Linked DNA regions of Homo sapiens: all the other regions are linked to region 1. Evidence: fine-mapped expression QTL. A gene starts in region 1. Each other region holds a variant in brackets. All regions are shown on one strand. Distances are between the middles of the regions.

Region 1 (8,000 bases):
TGATATTGACAATTTTCTTTCATGGGCAAAAAAGTTCATGGTGTTATAGAAAAGTAAACATTTTTCACTTAATGAAACCATGAGCTTTTCATGTGCCTCCCCCCACATAAAGAAACTAAAAGAAAAAGGTAATGGAATTACTGAAAAATGCATCCCCACCTCTAGGAGATATCACTAAATTGGACATCTCTGTCGGCCACATTCCATTCAGAGTGTGACCCTCATCCTTCAAGGTCCTGTTTTCAAATGATACCTTCTCCATAAAACGTTCCCTGATTCTTCACTCTGTAATTAAATTCTTCATTCCACAATTGGTAATTGTTATAACTTATCCACATAAATGAAGAAAGTCAAAAACTCCAGTTTAAAAAAATAACTTTGTAAATCATCCCCCCTCATCTTCCCTACTCTGTTGGTTCTTGTTTTTAGACTGGACTCTCAGGTGCAACAATATTATTGTTACTGGTGGAGAGTACTGACTACAAATCACCCAGGTTCTTGGCATTTTGAACAAAGAATTGGACAAAATTCACAAACAAAGCAACAAAAAAGTGAAGCGACAAAAGCATAGATTTACTGAAACAAAAGTACACTCCACAGAGCGGGAGCGGGCTCAAGCAAGTGGCTCAAGAGCGCTGGTTACAGAATTTTCTGGGGCTTAATTTTTTTATTTTTTTGAGGCGGAGTCTTGTTCTGTCACCCAGGCTGGAGTGCGGTGGCACATTCTTGGCTCACTGCAACCTACACCTCCCAGGTTCAAGCAATTCTCCTGCTTCAGCCTCCCCAATAGCTGGGATTACAGGCCCACACCACACCTGGCTAATTTTTGTAATTTTAGTAGAGATAGGGTTTCACCATGTCGGTTGGCCAGGCTAGTCTGGAACTCCTAACCTTGTGATCCACCCTCCTCAGCCTCCCAAAGTGGTGGGATTACAGGTGTGAGCCATCGTGCAGCATGGGGTTTAAATAGCCTCTAGAGGTTTCCCATTGGTTACTTGGTTACACCCTATGTAAATGAAGGAGTGGCCCGTCACAAGTCTGACTGATCATGGGAGGTGACCAATCAGAGTCTGAAGTGACGGTAGTTACAAAGTTACACATGAAGACTTGGCCTGCAACCAGTCTGAATGGTTGTGGGAGGGGACCAATCAGAGGTACTTTCCATTTTTCATTTGCAGTGCAGTGCAAAGGGAGTAGCCTCTGATCCTTTCGTTACATTCGTGTGAAGAGGTGGGGTTTCCCCTCTGATTCAGTTCTAGGAAGTCAGTGAGAATTGGCCTTAGGTTCCCTGCCTCTAGACCCTATTCTCCTGTCTCATTTTCCCGCTGTGAGACATGATCCCCATAAATCTTTATGGGAGGCAGAGGGACCAATGGTCTTTCTTCTGTAACTGCTTCATGCTGACTTGGGGTGCGGTGCCTACCTATTTGGGATCACAGAACTCTCACTCTGCTCTGTCTAGTGGATACAGGGTAGCTTCTTGATGGCCAGTAGTGGTGTCTTCACCTGAACTGGCTGGAAACCTTGTTGCATGATCATCTGAAGCTTGATGGTCTCTAGGCGAGAGGAAATTAATTTGGTTAATGTATTTAATAAATATGGTCCAAAAACCAAGGCAAGTATAATTAACAACGAGCCAGTCAGAGGAAGGACTCATGAACCCCTAATTAGCATTTTTGAACAGGAGGACCACGACTTGGACAGCTGTTGTCGTATCTTAGAAGCCTGGTCAGCTAATTTCTGGGTGGCATCCCTTACTAATTCTAATTGGTTGACATAAAAACAGCATTCTTCCTCTAGAAAAAGACATAAGCCACCTTTTCCAGCAGTTAGGAGATCCAGTCCCCTTCTATTTTGTAAAGCAACTGCTGCCAAGGAGTCTGTTTGAGTTTGTGTTGTGACGATACTTTGGGCAATGTCATCCAAGCTTTCCACAAAATCCTTGGAAAGTGCTGGTAACAGTATAGGGAAGTTGCAAGCCCGGTAACTCCCGTTCCTGCTCTCACTGTTATTCCTAGCCCAACAAAAAGGCGTTTGAGTTGGATTGCTCATTTGTGTCTGGCGGTTGCAGTTAAAGGTATAATGAGGGATTGGTTGTTGAGAGCTCTCCCTCTCTCTCTCTAAATATATATATATATATACACATATATATATAGTTTGTTTGTTTTGAGACAGTCTCCCTCTGTCACCCAGGCTGGAGCACAGTGGCTCAGTCTTGGCTCACTGCAACCTCTGTCTCCAGGGTTCAAGTGATTCTCCTGTCTCAGTCTCCAGAGTAGCTGGGATTACAGGTGTGCGCCACCATACCCGGCTAATTTTTTGTATTTTTAGTAGAAACAGGGTTTCAGCATGTTGGCCAGGCTGGTCTCGAACTCCTGACCTCAGGTGATCCGCCTGCCTCGGCCTCCCAAAGTGCTGGGATTATAGGCGTGAGAAACTGCGCCCGGCCGGGAGCTATATTGATTTCGGAGGCTAAAAACCAAGTGTACAGGTTCCAGTCCAATTGGCTGGTAAACACAGTAGGAACTGGTGCTGCACAGGGAAAAGGTTCCTTGTTTTTCAAGACAAAAATTGTTTTCCATGGTGAACATGTGGGTTAGCTTGTTGTTTTCACTTTCCCAAGTGGTTAAGTTTCCTACTAAAGTGGCCAAGCGAAAATGTCAACCCAGCTAGTGGGCCCACCTTCACAGTACTTAGACTGTGCATCCTTTAAAGTGCCCTTAACTAGGGATGGTTTCCATGAAAAGCATACAGGTTTTCTAAACGATGCAGTTTGGTTAATTGCATAGCTTACATGATTGTGTGAGGGTTAATTTCTGGGGTGTGGTTGCATTGAAGACTTCAAGTTCCCACGACCTGAACAGAATTTTGGCTTCTTTCAATACAAAGTGGCATCTGGAATTTTAGCTCTGTGTATGTTGATGTTGGGCCCCTAATGGGTTTCTGTGGGAATGCACCCTCAAAAAGGTTGCTCTGATTGGACTGGAGAGGGTTTACTGCTCATCCTGTCATTTTAACCTTTGTCATTTCCATACTTTTGAAGTCTTATAAGTCATCCAGATTCATTAATTCAAAGGGAGTTCCTCCCTGGTAGTTGGAATGATAGGTCATTTTTTTCAAGGACCCAAGATCGGGCTGGGATAGGGATGGCAGTGTATCTGGATGAAGATAGGAGATAAACAAAGCCAACAGTCCTTTGCCAGAGCTGAGCTGGTGGTATTTAACAGTCTTTGCATTAAATTTAAAGTTCTTAATAAATACCCAGAATCTATTAATTGCCAGAGGGGTAAAGTGAAGCTCTGTTGTAAAATAAAGCTGATTCCCTGTATGCGGTGTCCCTGTGTATACTGGGTGTATACTGGGTGTCCATTATGGAACAAAAAAAAAATACTTATTTGCTATTTTGTTCTATAGAATGGGAACTTCAGGGGGTGGATACCTGTGCTGTCAGGAATGCTAGTTATAAAAATGAATTAAAACACTTCATATATTACAAAGGAAGTGATTCCATCTATTTGGACGAAAGCAATTAAACTGCAAAAATATAAAAAATGGCAACTATTATTCAGTCTACAGTAACTATGCAACAAAGACACCAAGGAAAGTTGGTAGGCATTTACGTATCTCACTTAAAACAAGTCTATAAAGTGGTTTATTTTAAGAAGGGTACATTTTAAGAAGGACAAAATCAAAAGCATGGACAAGTGTTGGATGAGCTGATGAGGTTGTGGCAATTTACTTTGTGAATACTGTGAGAGTTTGTCCAACTCGCTGTGCTTAGGTACTAGATGGTGAGGATTTAAAAGGTCAATGAAGTCACAGCAGACCAGCACTCAAACATATTTCTCTTCTATTTCCTACTTTTGAATAAAAATGTCAGAAGTGGGCGGTGGGAAAGGAACAAGCAAAGGAGTAATTATTTGAATAAATTTTTGGCGAAACGTGGGTGTCTGACGGGGAGGCTGTGCGGTGGTGACCAACGCACCCATGCGCTGGGTTTCACAGATGCAGACTGAAGTCCAGGCTCTGCTGCAGATTAACGGGGTGGCCGCCAGCAAGTCAAGTGACTTGCTCTTCTGTGCACTGCATGTACTTGGGTTCCTCTCACAGGTATTCCTGTTTTTCCTCTTTCTTGCTCCAGGTTACACCTCGTGGCGCGGCGCTCTCGGAGAGCCTGTGGAGTGGCCCTGTGTCCCTCCCTGACCCCTGGAGGATTCCGTAAGGTCACAGTCACCGCCTCCATCCCCTACTTGCCATGTCTTCAGGGCTAATGCATAACAATTATCACAATTTACAGCAGCCCCACGCTCTGAAGAGCTTCTGGAGGGGATACTACTCAAGCGGAGGAAGGCAAGACAGGGACCTCCTCCCTCTTCCCGGACCTCTTCTGATAAGGAATATTTGTAGGTGGTTAAGAAAGGCAGCGGGAGGGCGTGAAGGCAAAGACAAGCTTTTTTTCTCGTAGGAACACACATCTTCTGGTCTGGCTGTGTTTCCGGAGGCATTTCCAGAGGACCTAGCGAGGACCAACTTCCGGCTGCGACTTCCGCGTCTTCCGAGTTTCGAGACCTGCTGCTTCCGCCCGGAGTTGTTGTGGGCTCCAGCAGCGAGTAGCCACTTCCGCTAGGAGTCCCTAGCGGCCAGGGCGTGGAAGCGGATTCTGAGGCGGCTTTCTCCTACTGCCCTCCGCTTGCCAACGCGGGACCCGGAGCCCAACGGCAGCGGCGGTCCTTGGGCCTGTGGAGAGGGGTTCTCTGTGGCCGAGTCCTAGGCCTGGTGAACCGCGCGGTGCGGGAGAGGCGCTTGGGCCTCGTCCAGCCCCAGCCCCTGTCTCCCCGCGGCCGGTGCCGGCGGCTGTAGGCCTCGCCGCGCCCACCCAGCCTGGGGCGGGCCCAGCCTCACCGCCCGGCCCGCCCCGCCCCACGGGCCAGCCCCGCGCCGGGTGTTTCCGCTACTTCCCTGCGGCGGGGTAACCGCCTCGCACCTACCGGGCTCGGTTCCCTGGCTCCGGCCGCGGGGGAGCATGGAGTTTGCGGAGCTGATTAAGACCCCGCGGGTGGACAATGTGGTGCTGCACCGGCCTTTCTACCCGGCTGTCGAGGGCACCCTGTGCCTGACGGGCCACCACTTGATCCTGTCCTCCCGGCAGGACAATACGGAGGAGCTGTGGCTCCTCCATTCAAACATCGACGCCATCGACAAGCGGTGAGTGCCCGCCCCACCCCAGCTCCGCAGGGAGCCGGGGGTCCCTTGTGGGCGCCCCGGGAAATACTTCCTGGCGTTTTCCGCGCAGCCTGCCGCCCAGCTAGCCGGCAAGATGAGCCCTCTGTGGCCTAGAATCAGGATTTACCAAGCTGAAACCCGTCCAGATGGAGGACCCGGTTTCCATTAAACCTGGATGGAGTTCTCAGGGTTATCGTGTGGCTGGTACCATCCTGATGATCATTTCTGGTTCGTAACACCATTTGGGTGGATTTTCGGCATTGTCTTTATAAATTTCTTCTTCTTCTTGCCCCATCGTATTCCTTGAATTGGTATTGTCAGTCACCGTTCATGAAGTGATTGGATGTGATTTAGGTAAAGTCTTTACCATTTCTGAGGAAAACTAAACAGATTATAAAGTTATGAGTGTCTACATGCTACAGAACCATTTTTTTAATTTCTGAAAAATGTTCAGTGTATCATATTATTTCTTACCTTCTGGGTCATCAAAATTTAATTCTCACTAAGGGAGATTCTGATGTCTTCTCTTCATCTTTACTCAATTCTGCTTGCTGAAAGAACAGGGTTGGCTCTCAAGGAAAGGCATGGACCAGTTAACCTCTTTTTTCTTTTTGTACTCCAGACTTTATCTTTCCAAGGCAGTGCCTCGAAGTCAAAAAGTTAAACTTTCATCTGCATTCAAAATTCCCATCTCCTTAGTGGCTACTCGCTAGCCAGGAGAGGGCAAACTGATTATCCGTTTTACACAGAAGTATAAATGAATGACGACAACATTTTCTATTGCCTCACAGGATAATTTGGATATTAGGAAGATTCGTACAGAGGATATGCCTTAAAATAATAATCTCTTTCTTTCTTTCTTTTTTTTTTTTTTTTTTTTTTGGAGACGAAATCTCACTGTATTGCCCAGGCTGGAGTGCGGTGGCCAATCTCGGCTCACTGTAACCTCCACCTCCCAGGTTCTAGCGATTCTTCTGTCTCAGCCTCCCGAGTAGCTGGGATTACAGGCACGCGCCACCACACCCGGCTAATTTTTGTATTTTTTAGTAGAGATGGGGTTTCACCATATTGACCAGGCTGGTCTTGAACTCCTGACCTCGCAATCCTCCCGCCTAGGCCTCCCACAGTTCTGGGATTACAGGCGTGAGCCACTGCGCCTGGCCTAAAATAAAAATTTCTAATGGTAGAATTGCAGGCAGTTTGGGTGAAGCCATGGTAGATTGATTGATTGATATGAGCAGGGGGCTCTTATTAGTCTCCTCAAGCCACCTTTTGCTGTATAAAGTCTTCAGTGGGCCCGGCACGGTGGCTCACGCCTGTAATCCCAGCACTTTGGGAGGCCAAGGTGAGCGGATCACCTGAGGTTAGGAGTTTGAGACCAGCCTGACCAACATGATGAAAGCCCGTCTCTACTAAAAATACAAAAAATTAACCGGGCATAGTGGCAGGTGCCTGTAATCCCAGTTACTCAGGAGGCTGAGGCGGAAAAATCGCTTGAACCTTGGAAGCAGAGGTTGCAGTGAGCCGAGATCGGGCCACTGCACTCCTTCCTTTGCAACAAGAGCAAAACTCCATCTCAAAAAAAAAAAAAAAAAAAAAAAAAGTCTTCAGTGGTCTCTCATTGAAAATCTAAACCCCTCAGTCATTCATGGCATTCTGTGTCTCGGCCCTATCCTACTTTCTCACTTTATTTCTTGCCATTTCTTTTAACGAGCCTTTCTTGCACTTGCTTTCATGAACGCTTTTTACCAGCCAGTCCTCACTATTTACTGGTGCTGGTATATGTCCTGTATTCTGTCATCTGTGTATTTTATTGACTTCTTCCTTCTGCTGGAATGCCTTGCCTCTCCCAAGTTTGTTTAACATTTGCCAAATGCCTTTATGTTCTGGACGTTTTGTTAGGCATTTAAGACACCAAGGTAAATAAAATATGTTACAGTTCTTGTCTTTCAGGAGTTCACAGGCAATGAGCCTGTTACCTGTCTATGAGTATTCAGTTTAACCATTTCGACCGCTACCTCCTTCACAAATTCTTCTGTTAATTCCACAACTGGAATTCATTTTTATCTCCTTCGAAACGTCTAACTGTGGCTTGGGCATATAGACGCGTAGGAAACAAAAGAAGGATTGACCGCTGAATGGTCAGATGCCGTTGAATACAACTGAGTAGTTTCTCCATGACCATCAACTACCTTTCCTTTCTTATTTACCTTTTATGGTGGTTACTTTGCGCTCATTTGTTTCCTCCTTTTTACCTTGCATTTACAAGGTGCTGGGCTTTGTAGTACATGAAGAAGAAGCAGATGAGCCATGGACCTTTGAATCTGTTAGGAGAGAATGACGAACTGTACACACATTTATCCTTTTCCTGGGAAGCAGCGTGGTGTAGTGAAAGAGCATAGGGGAGGCATCAGATCAGAGTTTGTTAAATTGCTGCTTTCAAGAAATCTTTACATCCACCTGTTTTCCACGTGCATTGTCTGAGCTGTGCGGCTGCAGTGGTGACTAAGACAAGATGCTTAGGTACTGGCCAGGGAGATGGACAATCAAGCAAGTCCAGAAATAAATATATATATTTATTAGATATATTTATATTTATTATGTTTATTATATATTATATATATTATAATATATATTATATATTATATATTATTTTCTTATATATTTATTATTTATTTATTATATATTTATTATATATTATATATAATACATATTATATAATACATATAATATATAATATATAACATTATATATTTTATTATATATGTTATATATTA
Region 2 (8,276 bases), 44 kb before region 1:
ATGTGCTAACTTCATTTGTCATCAGGAAAATGCAAATTAAAACCAAAATGAGATATCACCTTATGCCAGCCAGAATGACTAAAATCAAAAAGACAGAAAATACTAAGTATTGGAGATCTGGAACTCTCATCGACTGTTGATAGGAGTGTATATTGGTAGGACCACTTTGAAAACCTGTTCTACAGTCTCCATAAAGCTGAACATATGCCTGCTGTAATGACCCGGCATTTCTATTCCTAGGTGTATACACCACATAAAAAGGTACACATATTCACCAGAAGACACTTAAACGACTATTCGTGGCTGCATTGGGCATAGCAGCCAAACACTTGTACACAGCAGAATAGGTATTTAACTCTAGGGGCTGCTATGTAGGAATGAGAATTAATAAAAACAGCCACACATAACAATACAGAAAACTCTTATGAGCATAATGTCAAGTGAAAAGAAGCCAGATACAAATAAGTACCTATTATATGATTCCATGTTTATAAAGTTTTGAAATAGACAAATGATTCTAGGTTGTTAGAAGTCATGAAGACATACTCTTGAGAGTTTAGTGATTGGAAGAGAGTGTAATGAGGGCCCCTGAAGAGGTGGCAGCTGGCAATGTTCTTTTTCTTTTTCTTTTTTTAAGACAGGGACTCACTCTGTCATCCATACTGGAGTGCATGGTGTGATCACAGCTCACTGCAGCCTCAACCTCGTGGGCACAAGCAATCCTCCCACCTCAGCCTGCTGAGTAGCTGGGACTACAGACATACATCACCACACTTGTCTAATTTAAAAACAAGTTGTGGAGACAGTCTCACTTTGTTGCCCAGGCTGGTCTTGAACTCCTGGGCTCAAGTGATCCTCTTACCTTAGCCTCCCAAAGTGCTGACATTACAGGCATGAGCCACTGCACCTGAACAATGCTCTGTTTCTTGATCTGGGTATAGATTCCATGGGTGTGTGTCTTTTGTAAAAAATTATGCACCTTGTGATAACACTTGTGACTTGTATACTTTTCTGTATGTATATTATATTTCAATAAAAAGTTAAAAAGCCACGATAATGAAAAGAAAAGGCAAAATAAGCAGAACCTTGGGCCCTACCCAGGCACACTGAATTCATTCCCTGGGGTAAGAGTCAGGCTGTAGCCGGCCTCCAATGGCTCCCTCTGATCTTTACTTCCTAGTATCCACAATCTTGTGTAGCCATCTCACTCACCAAATAGAGCTGCCCTGTGTAACCAGTAGGATATTGTGGAAACAATGCAATGTGACTTCTGGATCTAGGCCATATATGGCATTTTGGCTTCTATCTTGCTCTCTCTCTCTCTCTGAGGAAAGCCACCATATCATGAGGACACACAAGAAGCTTTATAGAAAGGTCCGCGTGGTGAGGAACTGAGGTCTCCTGCCAACAGCCAGCACCACCTCGCCAGCTATGTGAGAGGCTCCAGCCCCAGTCAAGACTTCAGATAACAGAAGCCCCTACTGACATCTTGACTGCAATCTCATGAGAAATCCCAGTGTCAATACTAACACCACCTAGGAAAACTGCTGCCACACTCTAGACCCACAGCAACGTCGTGATATAATAAAGGTTTGTGATTCAAGCTGCTAAGTTTTGGAGTAATTTGTGAAGCAGTAATACATAAACAATAAGATCAAGACATACATTTTTTTAAAACTCCTAGATTTGGATGTGCAGCTATGCTCGGGAGCCTTTGGCATGGTATTCTGCTCCTATAAGTATAGCAGCTATCATTTTGTGCTATTGATATTCCTTGCTGGTCTTCACTGCTCAGGTGTGTGCTCACTCAGTGAAGGAATGATGTTTTGTTCATCTGGGTACCTTCAGTACTCAGAGAGAACCTGGCACAGAATGAGTGGTCCATCAGTATTTGTTTAATTGGAGTGACCCTTCCAATAAACACAGAGAGTAGGACCTACGACTGCCATCAGCCACCTAAACCATTTCAATGTATCTTTTTCATTCAAATAGTTTATTTTATTTTTATTTATTTATTTTTTGGGGGACAGAGTCTCACTCTGGCACCCAGGAGTACAGGCTGGAATACAGTGGTATGGTCACAGTTCACTGCAATCATGAACTACTCTGGGCTCATGCGATAATCTCATCTCAGCCTCCTGAGTAGCTGGGACTACAGGCATGTGCCATCATGCTTGGCTGATTTTTTTTATTTTTTGTAGAGACAAGGTTTCACTATGTTGCCCAGGCTGGTCTTGAACTCCTTGACCCAAGCTATCCTCCCACCTCAGCCTTCCAAAGTGCTGACATTACACATATGAGCCACTGCACCTGGCCTCAATATATTTTAAAAGAGTCTACTTTGAGCCCAACACTGGGCTCATGCTGGAGTTGCAAAGAAGAGGAATGTCAGCCCTTGTAGCCAGGTACTTGGTCAAGCAGGTGACATCAAGGCGGCAGACATTGGAGACACGCAGGGGCACATGCCAGGGTTTGTCTAGGAGCCTCTGATGAAGTGATCAGTTCAGCTTAGGAGGGCTGAGATGTTTCCAAGAGTAAGCAACGCTTGAGCCATGACCCAAAGAGTGACTGGGGGTGGGCCAGCTGGACAAGGAAGAAAAGGGTATTTGGGGAAGAGAAAAGAACCATGTGCCTCAGCAGAATGACTTGAAATCACATGCAGTATTGGAGTAAAATGGCAGGAGGGTGAGAGATGAGTATGGTGGTAAGGAGGTTGGATGTATTCTGTAGGTAACAGGATCACCGAAGCATGAAGTAGAATTTAACACAACCCAGTTTACAATTTTAGAGAGATACCTCTGTTTGCAGTGTGGATGATGGATTATAAGGAAACACTGAAGATTGCAGGGCCTCTTGGAGAAGGTAAGGACATTGTAATTGTCCAGGCAGGAGAAGGTATGGGCTGGCTAGGCAAAGTCAGGAAAAGGGGGAGGAGGGCACAGGTGTGAATAGGATGCTCCTACAGGCCGAAAATAAAGTTGAAGGACTGGAATCTGAAGCTTCTCCACCTTCTCCAGTAAGAAGGTTGGAGGAAGGAAGGTGAGTATGAGATATATTATCCAGGCAGTGTGTTCTTTTAAAAATTTCCTCCTAAGAACCAGAAAAAGATGGAAAAGCAAAAAGGCGAGGAGGGGTGGGATTCAAGAAGAAACTCAGTACATATGCTAATGTCACTTGGGAACTGTAAGCAGCTCACAATTTCCATCTATTATCATGGGTGAAGATATATTTCCAGCCGAAAAGAATAATTTTTAAAACATGGGTGTGAAATAAATGAGCACATGAAACCGTGTTGTCCAAAAAAAAAACCCCAGCAGAATGTTTTCCTTAGAAAGCAGCCTTTGGGTGACACTGCCAGCAGCCTGCAGCCCTAGCAAGGATCTGTGCTTTTGTCACTCTGTGATTTGCAATGGGAAAGAAGCTCGCTTATCTAAGAAATGCATCTGAAACTCCATGGCTGGCAGGTGCTTAAGAGCACGGAACAGATGTCTGTCGAATGTACCAAAAGTCGTAGATATATATTGGAAAGTACAGATGCACTACATCTTTGCTACCGTAGTAGAGAAAATATCTCAGATATGCACCAAGGGGCTTCATGCATTGACCTTGCTGACTTCTCTTCTACAGGACTTGGAGCCCGCGATGGGAGCTACTTAGAGACCTGTGTTCACTGGCATTCTGAAGGACCTTGCTGACCCCATCTCCAAGCAAGACTGGAGCCAGCTAACCAAAGATTTCGGTATGGTGTCTGAGGTTCTCTCCAGTCTCATGAGCCTTGCATTTGCTGGTGTTAATGCTGCATCCCGAGTCCCCCTTTTCTCACCTGCCTCCCTCTCACAAGTTTTGGAGCACTAACCTGTTGCCTCTCAGGCTCCACTGCTGTCTAGTCCACCAGTCTTACTGACAAGGCCCCAGTGTACTTTTTTTGGCTGCCTGGCATCCCTTAGACACCTCTCCAGGTTGACTCTCCTCAGTCCTGGAATCCACTCACTCCCCTTTCTCTTTTGGCAGAGAGATGATGTCTTAGTCCATTTGGGCTGCTATAATGAAACAGCACAGTCTGGGTGGCTTATCAACAAGAGAAATTTCTTTCTCACAGTTGTGGAGGCTGGAAGTCCAAGTTCAAGATATCAGCAGAGTTGGGTTCTCCCGAGACCTCTCTCCTTGGCTTGCAGATGGCTGTCTTCTTTTTTGTCCCCACACAGTCATCCCTCTGTGCATGGCTGTATCGTAATCTCTTTTTTTTTTGAGACAGAGTCTCGCTCTGTTGCCCAGGCTGGAGTGCAGTGGCACGATCTCAGCTCACTGCAAGCCCTGCCTCCTGGGTTCATGCCATTCTCCTGCCTCAGCCTCCCCAGTAGCTGGGACTACAGGTGCCTGCCACCATGCCCAGCTAATTTTTTTTTTGTATTTTTAG[C/T]AGAGATGGGGTTTCACTGTGTTAGCCAGGATGGTCTCGATCTCCTGACCTTATGATCAGCCCACCTCAGCCTCCCAAAGTGCTGGGATGACAGGTGTGAGCCACGACACCCGGCCCGTAGTCTGTTTTTATAAGGACACCAGTCATATTAGATGAGGGCCCATCCCAATAACCTCATTTAAACTAAATTACCCTTTAAAACCCCTATTTCCAAATACAGGCCCATTCTGAGTTACTGGGGGTCAAGGCTTCAACATAGGAATTTGGGGAGACACCATGCAGCCCATAACATGAGCTATTGTGTTAGACTCCTAACTTCTCTCTGTGCCTTTTTCCTCACCCTCTGGTCCAGCTGCATGGTACTTCTACCACAATCTTCCTCGAACACACGTCTGAGCATGCTGCTTTCCTGCTCAGCATCCCACACAAATGTTCGTGACTCCCTGGCTTGGTAACAAGGACCCCCATATTCCACTCCAAGCAGCTTCTGCTGGAGCTCTGACTCCCACCAGCTCTGCCTCAGAGCTCTTCCCCCATCTTGGCCACTTCCTCTATGTACCTTCTCCACATGATGATGTGAATGGAGCTTGGATGACCTGCTCTTCACACACTTCCTCTAAGGTACAAAGTGGGCAACAGCTTTCCACAGGAAAACACCATGGCATGAGATGTTGACTTGAGCAGCAAAAGACCATGGAGAAAATTGTGAGAAACCTGCCTGGGAAGCCAAAGGGCTACTTGCACTTTGTTAAGTCCTTCTCTCCATTTTGTCTTCTTCAGAACTTGCCTTTTGCTCCTCCTCCCTCAAGCAGATGGTTGAAGATATATGATCACATTTTTAAGTTGAGTGTGAATGGGATTGAATTCACTCACAGCTATTTGGGGCCTTATTGCAGGAAGTCAGGGACCCCGAACGGAGGGACTGGCTGGAGCCGTGGCAGAGGAATATAAATTGTGACAATTTCATGGACATTTATCAGTTCCCAAATAATACTTTTATAATTTCTTATGCCTGTCTTTACTTGTGTCTTAATCCTGTTACCTTCATAAACTGAGGATGTACGTCACCTCAGGACCACTGTGATAATTGTGTTAACTGTACAAATTGATTGTAAAACATGTGTGTTTGAACAATATGAAATCAGTGCACCTTGCAAAAGGACAGAATAACCACGATTTTTAGGGAACAAGGGAAGACAACTATAAGGTCTGACTGCCTGCAGGGCTGGGCAAAAAGAGCCATATTTTTCTTCTTGCAGACAGCCTATAAATGGATGTGCAAGTAGGAGAGATATCGCTAAATTCTTTTCCTAGCAAGGAATATTAATATTAATACCCTGGGGAAGGAATGCATTCCTGGGGAGAGGTCTGTAAAAGGCCACTCTGGGAATGTCTGTCTTATGTGGTTGAGATAAGGACTGAGATATGCCCTGGTCTCCTGCAGTACCCAAAGGCTTACTAGGGTGGGGAAAAATTCCATCCTGGTAAATTTGTGGTCAGACCGGTTCTCTGCTCTTGAACCCTGTTTTCTGTTGTTTAAGATGTTTATCAAGACAATACGTGCACCGCTGAACATAAACCTTTATCAGTAGTCCTGCTTTTGCCGTTTTGTCCTGTTCCCTCAGAAGCATGTGATCTTTGTTCTGCTTTTTGCCCTTTGAAGCATGTGATCTTTGTACCTACTCTCTGTTATGACACCCCCTCCCTCCCCTTTTGAAACCCTTAATAAAAAACTTGCTGGTTTGAGGCTCAGGTGGGCATCACGGTCCTACCGATACGTGATGTCTCCCCTGGCGGCCCAGCTGTAAAATTCCTCTTTGTACTCTTTCTCTTTATTTCTCAGCTGGCCAACACTTATGGAAAATAGAAATAACTTACATTGAAATATTGGGAGTGAGTTCCCCAGATAGGGGCTTCCATGGACTGAATTGGGTCCCCTCCCAAATTCATATGTTGAAACACTAACCTCTAATGTGACTGTGTTTGGAGATAGAACGTTTAGAGTAGTGATTTAAGGTTTAAAAAGAGTGAGGCGCTAATCTGATGGGGCTGGTGTCCTTACCAGAAGAGTAAAAGATATGAGAGGGCTCTCTCTCCACTTACCCACAAAGGAAAGGCCATGTGAGGATGGCGCAAGAAGGTGGCTGTCTGTAAGCCAGAAAGAGAGCCCTCACCAGGAGCCAAATCTGCTGGCACCTTAATGTGGAACTTCCAGGCTCCAGAGCTGTGAGAAAATACATTTCTGTTAAGTTATACAGTCTATAGCATTTTGTTATGGCAGCCTCAGCAGACGAACACAGGGGCTTTCCCAAAAGGAGTTGCATGTTTTGCCTGGTTTTGCTGATAGTGAGACCTGCATGGCTCATTCATCAGCAACTCTTCCTTTGTATGAGCATCCTGGCTTGGACTCCTGATGTCTGTCCCTCCAGAGGTGGATGTAGAGTGATCCCTTAAGGAGGCCATTATCACTGACCAGTGACAGAGAGAGGAACAAGCCCCTTTCCTTCCTGACCCATGAGACTGGTGTTGGTTAGGAAATATCAAGAGCTGGGAAAGGTTTGAGATTTCACCCTACTTGCAGTCTAACAAGTTAGCCTGCCACACTTTCAAGGTTGCTGGCAGAAGACACAACAGAGGCAGAGACAAAGGACTTCATTACTCATAGCAATAGCAGTAACCAAGTGTCAGCATTTGTGTTCATCTCCCCAGTCCCAATTCCTGCAGGCTAATGTGACAAGAGCCAGGTGTTATCTCCAGAGGCAGTGGGTGACTTTCCTAGAGAAGAAGCTCAAGCTTTGGAAGCCCAAGCCTTTTATATTGGGCAGTAAGCTTGTATGAACTTTGCTCTGGAGGGAGACGAAATCTTTATCATTTTAGACAGTAAACAAGCCTGCCCTTTGCTGCTGATGGAAACCCTATTGCTCTCTTACAAGGCTGCTTGCCATACAAGTACCCTGGTGGTGTATCTAGTGAGATGTGTATGCTAGTGCCTCTGCTTCTCTGATTGAACTCTGATCGACACTGGCCCCTAATCCGTTTCAATAAGCTATGCTATTTATTATCCCTAGGAAATATTCCTTCTAGATAATGGAAATGGTCCTGGGACCTACACTTAAACATAAATATCTGGTGTCCTGGAACTTGACAATATGTCTATTGTGAAATGTAGGTTTCAACATGATTCAGAAGGCAACTGCCATTGAAAAGATAGTTTGTTACTCACAGTTCCCAAGAGAAGGGGCAAGGCATGCCACACCACGTGATGGTGGGAGTGGGGGACACATGGAGAAGCACTGGGGTTGACCAGGAGGCAAAGGTAGAGAGGAGAAGTGTGGGTAATAGCCTTTACTGTGACTTCTGCAGGAAAGAATAGGTGAGGCAGGTGAGCAGGCTCAGGATTGGCTAGTGTGAATCCTTTCAGTGGGCTCTGGGGCATAAAGGCTGCTCCTAGTTGCCTGGAACGTAGCCTTGCAGTGATGGTGGCCCAGAGTGCAGGAGCCCCACAAAGGAGGTGGTTGGGAGGTGGGGTCTGGGTGGCTTGGTTCGCATGTCAAAGGCATGCTCACAGAAGAGCTCTTTGCTTCCACTAAGAATTGGCTAACCCTGGGTGGGGCAGTCCCTCCAGCATCAACAAGTCCCCAATATGGCCAAGCCTCAGAATAAAAAGGCTTGCTTAATACGACATCACACAAAAACTACACCTCACTGTGAAGACCTAACTCCAGAAGAATGTGGAAAACTAACCAAACACCTTGCCTGACATCATCACTCAGCCTTCTGCCCTCTCGGTTAATCCAAGGTAGCTGGGCAGCATATCAGCTAAGGCACTTCCAGAGTTTAAAAGCATCTCACTACATAG
Region 3 (8,276 bases), 23 kb before region 1:
GCTCCACCACTCTGAAAACACAGTAGGACATATTCGTTAAGTGTCTGAAATCCAAGTCATCTGGACCCGGCACGCTCCCTGATGCCTTTGCCACACCTTTACAGATATTCCAGGGTTATGCTGCTTGCAGGTGACACAATTAGTTATATAAATAAACATGAAATAAAATTTATCTCCAGTGTTTTTGTACCCAGGTGCTGATTCTTGTCTTTTTTTTATTTTTGTTTTTATTTTATTTTTTTGAGACAGAGCCTCACTCTGTCACCCAGGCTGGAGTGCAGTGGTGCCATCTCAGCTCACTGAAACCTCTGCCTCTTCGTTCAAACATTTCTTGTGCCTCAGCCTCCTGAATAGGTGGGATTACAGACATGCACCGCCACTCCTAGCTAATTTTTGTATTTTTGGTAGAGACAGGGTGTTGCCATGTTGACCAGGCTAGTCCTGAACTCTTGACCTCATGCGATTTGCCCTTCTTGGCCTCTCAAAGTGCTGGGATTGCAGACGTGCACCACCATGCCTGGCTAATTTTTGTATTTTTAGTAGAGACAGGATACTGCCATGTTGGCCAGCCTGGTCTAAAACTCTTGGCCTCATGTGATCTGCCCACCTCGGCCTCCCAAAGTGCTGGAATTACAGGTGTGAGCCACTGCGCCAGACCTGATTCTTGTCTTTCTAGCGTGTGTATGTCTCCCCAGCAACGGGCACGTGCATTGGTCTAGGCACCACCAAGGGGCTGTTTTAGAAAAATCAAACATGGTGGAGATTCAAAAAAATCTGTCAGGTTGTGAATTTGGGGCTAGATCTTGGAAACAGCATCAGAAAGTAAACTAAAATCCAGAGGAAGGGAACTTTTAGGGCAGTGAAACTATTTCCTATGTTACAATAATAATGGATACACATAATATATTTGTCAAAACCCAGCAAATGTACAACTCAAAGAGTGAAGCCTAATATAAACTACAGGCTTTAGTTAATAATAATTCTGTATCTTTTTTTGGTATTTTTATTTTATTTATTGGTAACTTTTTAAATTTTAAATTTGTAAATTTTTTTCTTGATAGTGTTGGTGAAAATCTTTTTGAAATATATTTTAATTCTATTTTTTCAATTGATAAATAATAATTACACAAATATGACAAATAATTTATGGAGTATGTAGTGATGTTCTCATAAATACAACGTGTAGACATCAGGTCACGGTAATTAGTGCATCCATCATCTGAAACATTTCATCACTTCTTTGCATTGGGAATGTTCAATATTTTCCCTCAGCTATTTGAAACAATATATTATTGTTAACTATCATCATTCGTATAGAACGCTAGATCGTATCAGAATTGGTTTGTCAGTTATAACAAACGTACCACACTAATACAAGATGTAAATAATAGGGAAATGTGAGGGGGGAGCCTGGGCAGGGAGAGATATGTGGGAATTCTATACTTTCCAATCAATTCTTCTCTAAGCCCAAAATTGCCCTAAAAAATTACAAATCATGCCTCACGGAGGAGAATCATGTAAGATGCTGGCCCAGACACAGTGGGCATGGCTGTGCCCATTCCTTCTCCTTCATTCATACCACACACCTGTGTCAGGGTCCTGGTGGCGCCACCATACATTGCTAGCTAGTGCCAGCGCAGGGTCTGAGCCTCTTCAGTGGCCACGCCTGCCAGCAGGCTCTGATGGGCTACCCCCACGTCCTGCACCCTTAGACTGCTTGATGCCTTGCCCAGGATGGCCACTGCGGTTACCCCTGAGTGACTGGGGTGAAGTGGATCGGAAATGCCTCCCCTGCCATCTGCAATGCATTTCAGGAATCTCTTCCAAAGGTCCTGAAAGTTTGAGCAGCAACTGCACTGGCTGTGACTGCCTTGATGACCCCCCGCCGTGGGCTGGCTTTCTACCTTCCTCTGAGTCACTCCTCCTACCCCTCACTCCTGCTCCCTAGGACGACTTCCCAGAAAAAGTCCTGAATGCAAGTCTTCACCCCAGACTCTGCTTAGGGGAAGAGACACATTTAAGTGCATTTAAACCTGTACGTGTAGGCATGTGTCACACCAAACAATGTTAAAATGACAACACTACTCAGCCCTTTGAAATTTGAATTTTCTAAACAGAACTAATCTTATCAAGTATATTAGGTCTATTTGTACTATCTTCATTTGAGTGTTATAAATATATATATATGTTTCTATGGGCAAAAAGACATAAGCCAAAACCACGAGCATGTACTTTCTTTCTCTTTGTTTATAATTTAAAATATTTTCCTTGGAAAATTTCCAGATACATAAAGACTATTCTCTAATTACTTCAGCTGATAATCAGCTAAAGGTCTCAAGTCAGTTAGGCATCTTAGAACATCTATTTTAATTTGACATTAAAGAAAATATAATCACTGTAATTATTAGAAATAAAACTCTTTAAAACTCCCACAGTAAAGGTGAAGTGATTCTATAGGCTCACCTAACTAGCAGTGTTTTATATGAAGACATCAATTGTTACAGCTTTCATTAAATAAATACATACGTTTACATTTCTAGTCTTAAATATATGGTGTTAGCACTGATAACCTACCTGACAAGTAGAAGGACCTTAGGATATTCTATTTAGTTAAGCTTGAGATAAGATGATAATTCCAAAATTATGCATAAAGAGTTACATTTATACTATGTTCTTACACCGTGATAAAATCAAAGAGAAAATATGTAGCTATCTATTTTGCCAAGATCTATAATTCATTAAGTATGCATGATGGATTTTTATATAATTCTTCTGTATTTATTTTTAGTAAGTAATACTGAATTCCTTTACATTTTACCTAAATTTCTAACACGGAAGGGTGTTTTGTGAAGCCGTCATCTGACTACTAATTGGTGGCTTAATGATTATTTACACCTCTTTCTTCTCTTGTAATTCAACAGTAGGAAGTCCATGTTATTAAACTAACATTTGCATTTTTCCTTTTTCTGATCCAAAAGCTTTTTAGAGAGAGATGTAATTTAATATTAGAAAACAGGAACACTTTTCACAGTTCTATTAATGACTTAATTGTTTATACATAGTTTAAATTTTTTTAATTTTATGCTAATTAGGGTAATATATACCTTTATTTTTATCATCTTAACCATTATGAAGTTTATAGTTATAGATGTTAAGTATATTCACATTGTTTTGAAAGATATATACTTTTGATGAATGTCTTAATAATTAAATTAATTTGAAAAAATCTGTTCTCATTTGAAAATCTCCTTTTCCAAGAAGGAAACTATTGGATGTTTCAGTTTCCAGAAGACAGATTTCTTTAAACCCTTTAAAATATCCATACGTGTCATTACAATATATAGCTTTTCAGCTAGGTGCATTTAGGCAAATTTCACACTTTATTTCTGTCAGGTGGAAAGGTTTTCCTAAAGGGCCACGTGTCTAAAGCATTTTGTGTTTTGGCATAATTTCTTAAACTTTTTTGCGCTTTGGGGGGTCTGAGATTCTTTATCTTATTCATTAATGTTCTTTTTAACTTCTAGAAACCATCAAAATAGGAGCTGTATTGAATTTGCAAGACTTTCCAACTGTATTTGCTAATTCCCTTGGGAGACAGACTATCCCAACTATTCCCATTTTCATTTCTGCACCATTTTGTTAGCTGTGGTAGGGATGTAATCAGTTCACACATCTGGTATCGCATGGATTGGCTAGTGTTAAAGGTTTCACAAATTACTACGAACACTTTTTATTTTTGAAATTGAAGGGCTCTTAATTAGTTTAAAAATAGCTATCAACTTGCTTATAACCAGTATTTGTATGTTGCTACTTGTTCTCTTCCTAAAGGTGGGGAAGTGACATTTGACAACAGAGACCTATCTCCGAAAGAGTTATTTGAGAAAGGGTGTTGTTGGATCAGTC[G/A]GACTTCCTGTCCTGATTGCAGTAGTGGGTGGGGTGAATTTCCTTCTAGCAGCGTGGAAAAGGGGCATGGGAATCAATGCAGGTGGAACAGTGGTTCCTGATGTGACGTAGGCAACCATTGGACATTGGGCTTTTTTACATCCTCAGATTCAAGAGCCTCTTGAAAATGTCTCATTTTGATCATATCGAGTTCTGTCTGTGAAAGCGATGGCAAGTCTGGGTTAACTAGTGAACTAGTCTAGTCGAGTTAGCTTAAGACTCTTTCTTATAATGCATGGACATGTAAAAATCAGGAATTTCTTGGTGAAAAAATTTGTTTCCTTAGAACCAGAACAACCCATAATGCAAACGCATAAAAAAGATTTGCAAATTGATGTCCTCAGTCTCTCTAGATACATTTCAGGTGTTCAAGATCCACGTATAGCTAGTGGTGACCATATTGACATCATGGAAATACCTACTGGGCCGTGCTGGTTTACACCATACTCTCTGAAACACCGCTTAGGCATTCACCCCATGATTCTGTGTATGACTGCTTTTAGTAGCTGCTGCTGCTATTTGCTACCACGAAGGCCGCCTCCTCCTCCCGTGGTCGGTAGGTAAGTTTAGGTTCTTGATCTCACCACACAAAAGAATTTGAGAGTGACTCCAAAGGAAGAGTAGCCAAAGAAGCTTATTGTAAAGCGAAAGTACCCTCTGAGAGGCTGAGTGGGCTGCTTAAAGGGAGAGACAGCAACTAGTGCCTTCAGAGGAATTCCTTTTGCGGGAATTGTTCGTATATATTCATAAAATACTGGTGAGGTCAAGTACGTAAAGACAGACCTGCGGTTGACACATGCGCTCAGCATCTGCATGCTGTAACATGCAATGCATGTATCATTAGCATATAAAATCTCCGCCTAGGGGTGTGTTTTTTTACTATTAAAATGAAGAAAAGGTTACTATGAGCTAAACCTTGAGCCTAGCTGCACAGGTGGGACCCTGGAGCAATCCTCAGCCCTCCTGCCCCAAGGCAGTAATTTGCAGCTAATAGCTTCTTGGGTTTTGGATGCTGATTGGCTAGGTACTGGGGAAGCTACATTATGAATAAGTCTCTTTCCCGGGCTGTGCTAGCTATTAGGAACTTGTAACCATCAGGCAGTTGGCTGGTGTCCTGCAGGACTGTTTATCTTGCAAAAGAGTCAGGCGCTGACGTAAGAGGGTGCAAGGGATGCGGAGCCCACTAGGCTTTACGCCAGGGGAAAAGTCAGTAAGTGAGTATGGCCTCCTAACCTTCCTTATCCTGCTTCACTCCTCCTTACTTTTCTTTTTGTGGCCGTTTTATTGAGGTACAGTTTACATACTGTACAATTCATCAGTGTAAAATGTACAATTCAGTGGTTTTTAGTATATTCACAGAGCTGTGCAACCGTCACCATAATCCACTGTAAACATTTTCATTACCTCAAAAAGAGACTCCCATTTGCTTTAGTCTTCACTCCCCAATTCCCCCATACTCCTGGCTCTAAGCAACTACCAATCTATTTTCTGTCCCTTTATTTTGCTTATTCTGGACATTTCATATAAATGGATCATGTCATGGGTGGTCTTTCGTGACTGTTTACCTCCCATGATATTTTCAAGTTTCATTCATGTTGTAGCGTGTATCAGGACTTCATTTCTTTTTGTGGCCAAATAATATTTCATTTTATGGATATATCACCTTTTGTTTGTCCATTCACAGTTCATAAATATTTGGGTTTCCATCTTTTGCTTTATGACTAATGCTGCTATAAATATTCATGTACAAGTTTTCATATGGACATACGTTTTCATTTCTCTTGGGTGTATACCTACTAGTGGAATTGCTGCTCAAATGGTTACTCTATGTTTAGCTTTTTTGAGAAACTGCCACACTGTTTTCCAAAGTGACTGCATCGTTTCTACATTCTCACCAGAAATGTATGAGGGTTCTAATTTCTCCATATCCTCACCAAAGTTTATTATCTTTTTGATTATAGCCATCATGGTAGGTGCTAAGAGGTATCTTCTTGTGGTTTTTAATCAAAAAACGAGTGTTAGGTTTTGTCAAGTGCTTTTTCTGCATCTATTAATATGAGCATGTGGCTTTCGGTTTTTATTCTATTGATAGGGTCTGTTACAATAATTAATTTACAGGTGTTAAGCTAACCTTGCCTTCCTGGAATAAATCCCACTTGGTCATAGTGTATGATTCTTTTTATATGTCACTGGATTTGATTTGCCACGATTTTGTGGAGGATTTTTGTATCCATAGTAATAAGAGATAGTGATCTGTAGTTTTCTTTTTTTGTGATGTCTTTGGTTTTGGAATCAGGGTAATACTGACATCATAGAATGAGCTGAGAAGCATCCCTTCTCTCCCGTTTTTTGGAAAAGTTTGTGAAAAACTGATATCGTTTCTATAATTCTAATAATTTAAGTCTTCTTTCTTATGTCTTGGTTGAATTCTGTTATTTTTGTTTACCTTTCCAAAGAACCAGCTTTTGGATTCACTGATTTTTCTTTACCATTTTGTATTCTCTATTTCATTAATTTCCATTCTAATATTTACTATTTCCTTTCTTTTTTGAATTAGGTTTAGTTTGGTCTTCTCTTTCCAGTGTCTTAAGATGGAAGTAATTGTTCTGAGTTTTTTTTCTTTTTTAATATAGGCATTTACTGCTATAATTTTTCCTAGGCAGTTCTTCAGCTGAATTCCATAAGTTTTGGAATGTTGCGGTTTCCATTTTAATTCAGTTCAAAGTATTTTCTAATTTTCAGTTTGATTTTTCTTTTGACCTACTGGCTATTTAGGAGTATGTTGTTCAATTTCTACATATTTGTGGGTTCCCCAAATTACTTTATGTTTTTGATTTCTAATTTAATTCCAGTGTGGTTGGAGAAGATACTATGTATCATTTCAATCCTTTTAAATTTACTGAGGTTTGTTTTATGACCTAGCATAAAGCCTTCCCTAGAGAACATTCCATATTCACTTGAAAAGAACATACATTTTGCTATTGTTTGATAGAGTGTTCTAGAGCTATAGCAGATTTTTTGAAACTCACTCAGGAAAATCTCAAATGTGTGCAGAAGTAGAGATAATAATATAATAATTGTGAGTTGAATTGTGTTCCTCTTCCAAAATATTGAATTCCTAGCCCCCAGTGTCTGTGAACAAAGGGTTTTTTGTGGGGAGGAGGCACATGATTAAGTTAAGATGAGGTAGTAGGGTGGGCCCTATCCAATATGATGGCTGTCATTTAAAATGGGAGAAATTTGGACACAGAGACAGTCATGAACACAAGAACACCATGTGAAGATGAAGGTGGAGATTTTGGAGATGTAACTACAAAGCAAGGAGCGCCAAAGATTGCTGGCAAACCACCAGAAGCCAGGGAAGAGGCATGCAACAGGTTCTTGTCCCTTAGAAGGAACCAATCCTGCTGACACCTTGATCTTAGATTTTCAGCTCCCAAAACTGTGAGACAGTAAATTTCTGTTGGGCCAGGTGCAGTGACTCTCGCCTGTAATCCCAGCACTTTGGGAGGCTGAGGTGGATGGGTCACCTGAGGTCAGGAGTTTGAGACCAGCCTGACCAACATGGCGAAACCCTGTCTCTATTAAAAATACAAAAATTAGCCGGGTCTGGTGGCAGGTGCCTGTAATCCCAGCTACCTGGGAGGCTGAGGCAGGAGAATCACTTGAACCTGGGAGGTGAAGGTTAGCGTGAGCCGAGATCACACCACTGCACTACAGCCTGAACAACAGAGTGAGACTCAGTTTCAAAAAAAAAAAAAAAAAAAATTATATTGTTTAAGCCACTCTGTTTATGGAAAACACTTACGTACTCAGCACTCAGATTCAACGACCTTTCAGCCAGTTGTATCTTCACCACAAGCCAGAGCTCAGTGGCTCCCAGGCATTATAACAACACGGACCCTCTGGTCAATGTTGGACTTTCAGGTGAGAAAGTTTAAAGGCAAAAAGACATTTTGGCATGCTGCCACAGTGTCCTTTGGTCAGGAGGTGAAAAGCAAGTTCTGAGTATTGGACTTCCAAAACTGTAAAAGACAAAAAGTCAACACAGTTGAGCTGATGGGGTTTGGCTCTGTGTCCCTACCAAATCTCCTGTCGAATTGTAATCCCCAGTGCTGGAGGTGGGGCTGGGTGGGAGGCGATTGGCTCGTGGGGGTGGAGTTCTCATGAATGGGTTAGCGCCGTTCCCTGGGTGCTGTTCTCGTGATAGTGAGTGCGTTTTGGTGAGATCTGGTTGTTTAAAAGTGCGCAGCACCTCACCACTCACTCTCTTCTTCCTGCTCTGGCCATGTGAGATACCTTGCTCCCCTTTTGCCTTCTGCCATGATTAAAAG

Which allele goes with the higher level. Alleles are on the strand shown, and positions count from the first base shown. SD is a standard deviation of normalised expression in the study named. Not every link is listed here.
In carriers of allele G in region 3, the expression in stomach of the gene that starts at base 4,951 in region 1 tends to be higher than with A alone (small effect, 0.23 SD a copy in GTEx).

Evidence for each region.
Region 2: its variant is fine-mapped to the expression of MTMR9 in whole blood (INTERVAL, PIP 0.98).
Region 3: its variant is fine-mapped to the expression of MTMR9 in stomach (GTEx, PIP 0.96).

Annotation. Positions count from the first base shown.
Region 1 is chr8:11,279,866-11,287,865 of GRCh38, forward strand. MTMR9 (myotubularin related protein 9) reads left to right here and starts at 4,951. Exons shown (of 10, transcript NM_015458.4): 1 at 4,951-5,205. The coding sequence starts at 5,024. LINC00529 (long intergenic non-protein coding RNA 529) reads right to left here and starts at 4,166. Exons shown (of 5, transcript NR_170283.1): 1 at 3,986-4,166; 2 at 1,424-1,556. RefSeq lists silencers at 1,088-1,137, 4,630-5,039 and enhancers at 3,920-4,009, 4,100-4,159, 4,435-4,936.
Region 2 is chr8:11,235,489-11,243,764 of GRCh38, forward strand. No RefSeq gene overlaps it. Among named protein-coding and RNA genes, the nearest start is that of XKR6, 38 kb to the left of the region's middle. The variant C/T (reference allele first, on the strand shown) is at 4,418.
Region 3 is chr8:11,257,115-11,265,390 of GRCh38, forward strand. All of the region lies in intron 4 of LINC00529 (long intergenic non-protein coding RNA 529), which reads right to left. Among named protein-coding and RNA genes, the nearest start is that of LINC00529, 23 kb to the right of the region's middle. RefSeq lists an enhancer at 4,906-5,200. The variant G/A (reference allele first, on the strand shown) is at 3,904.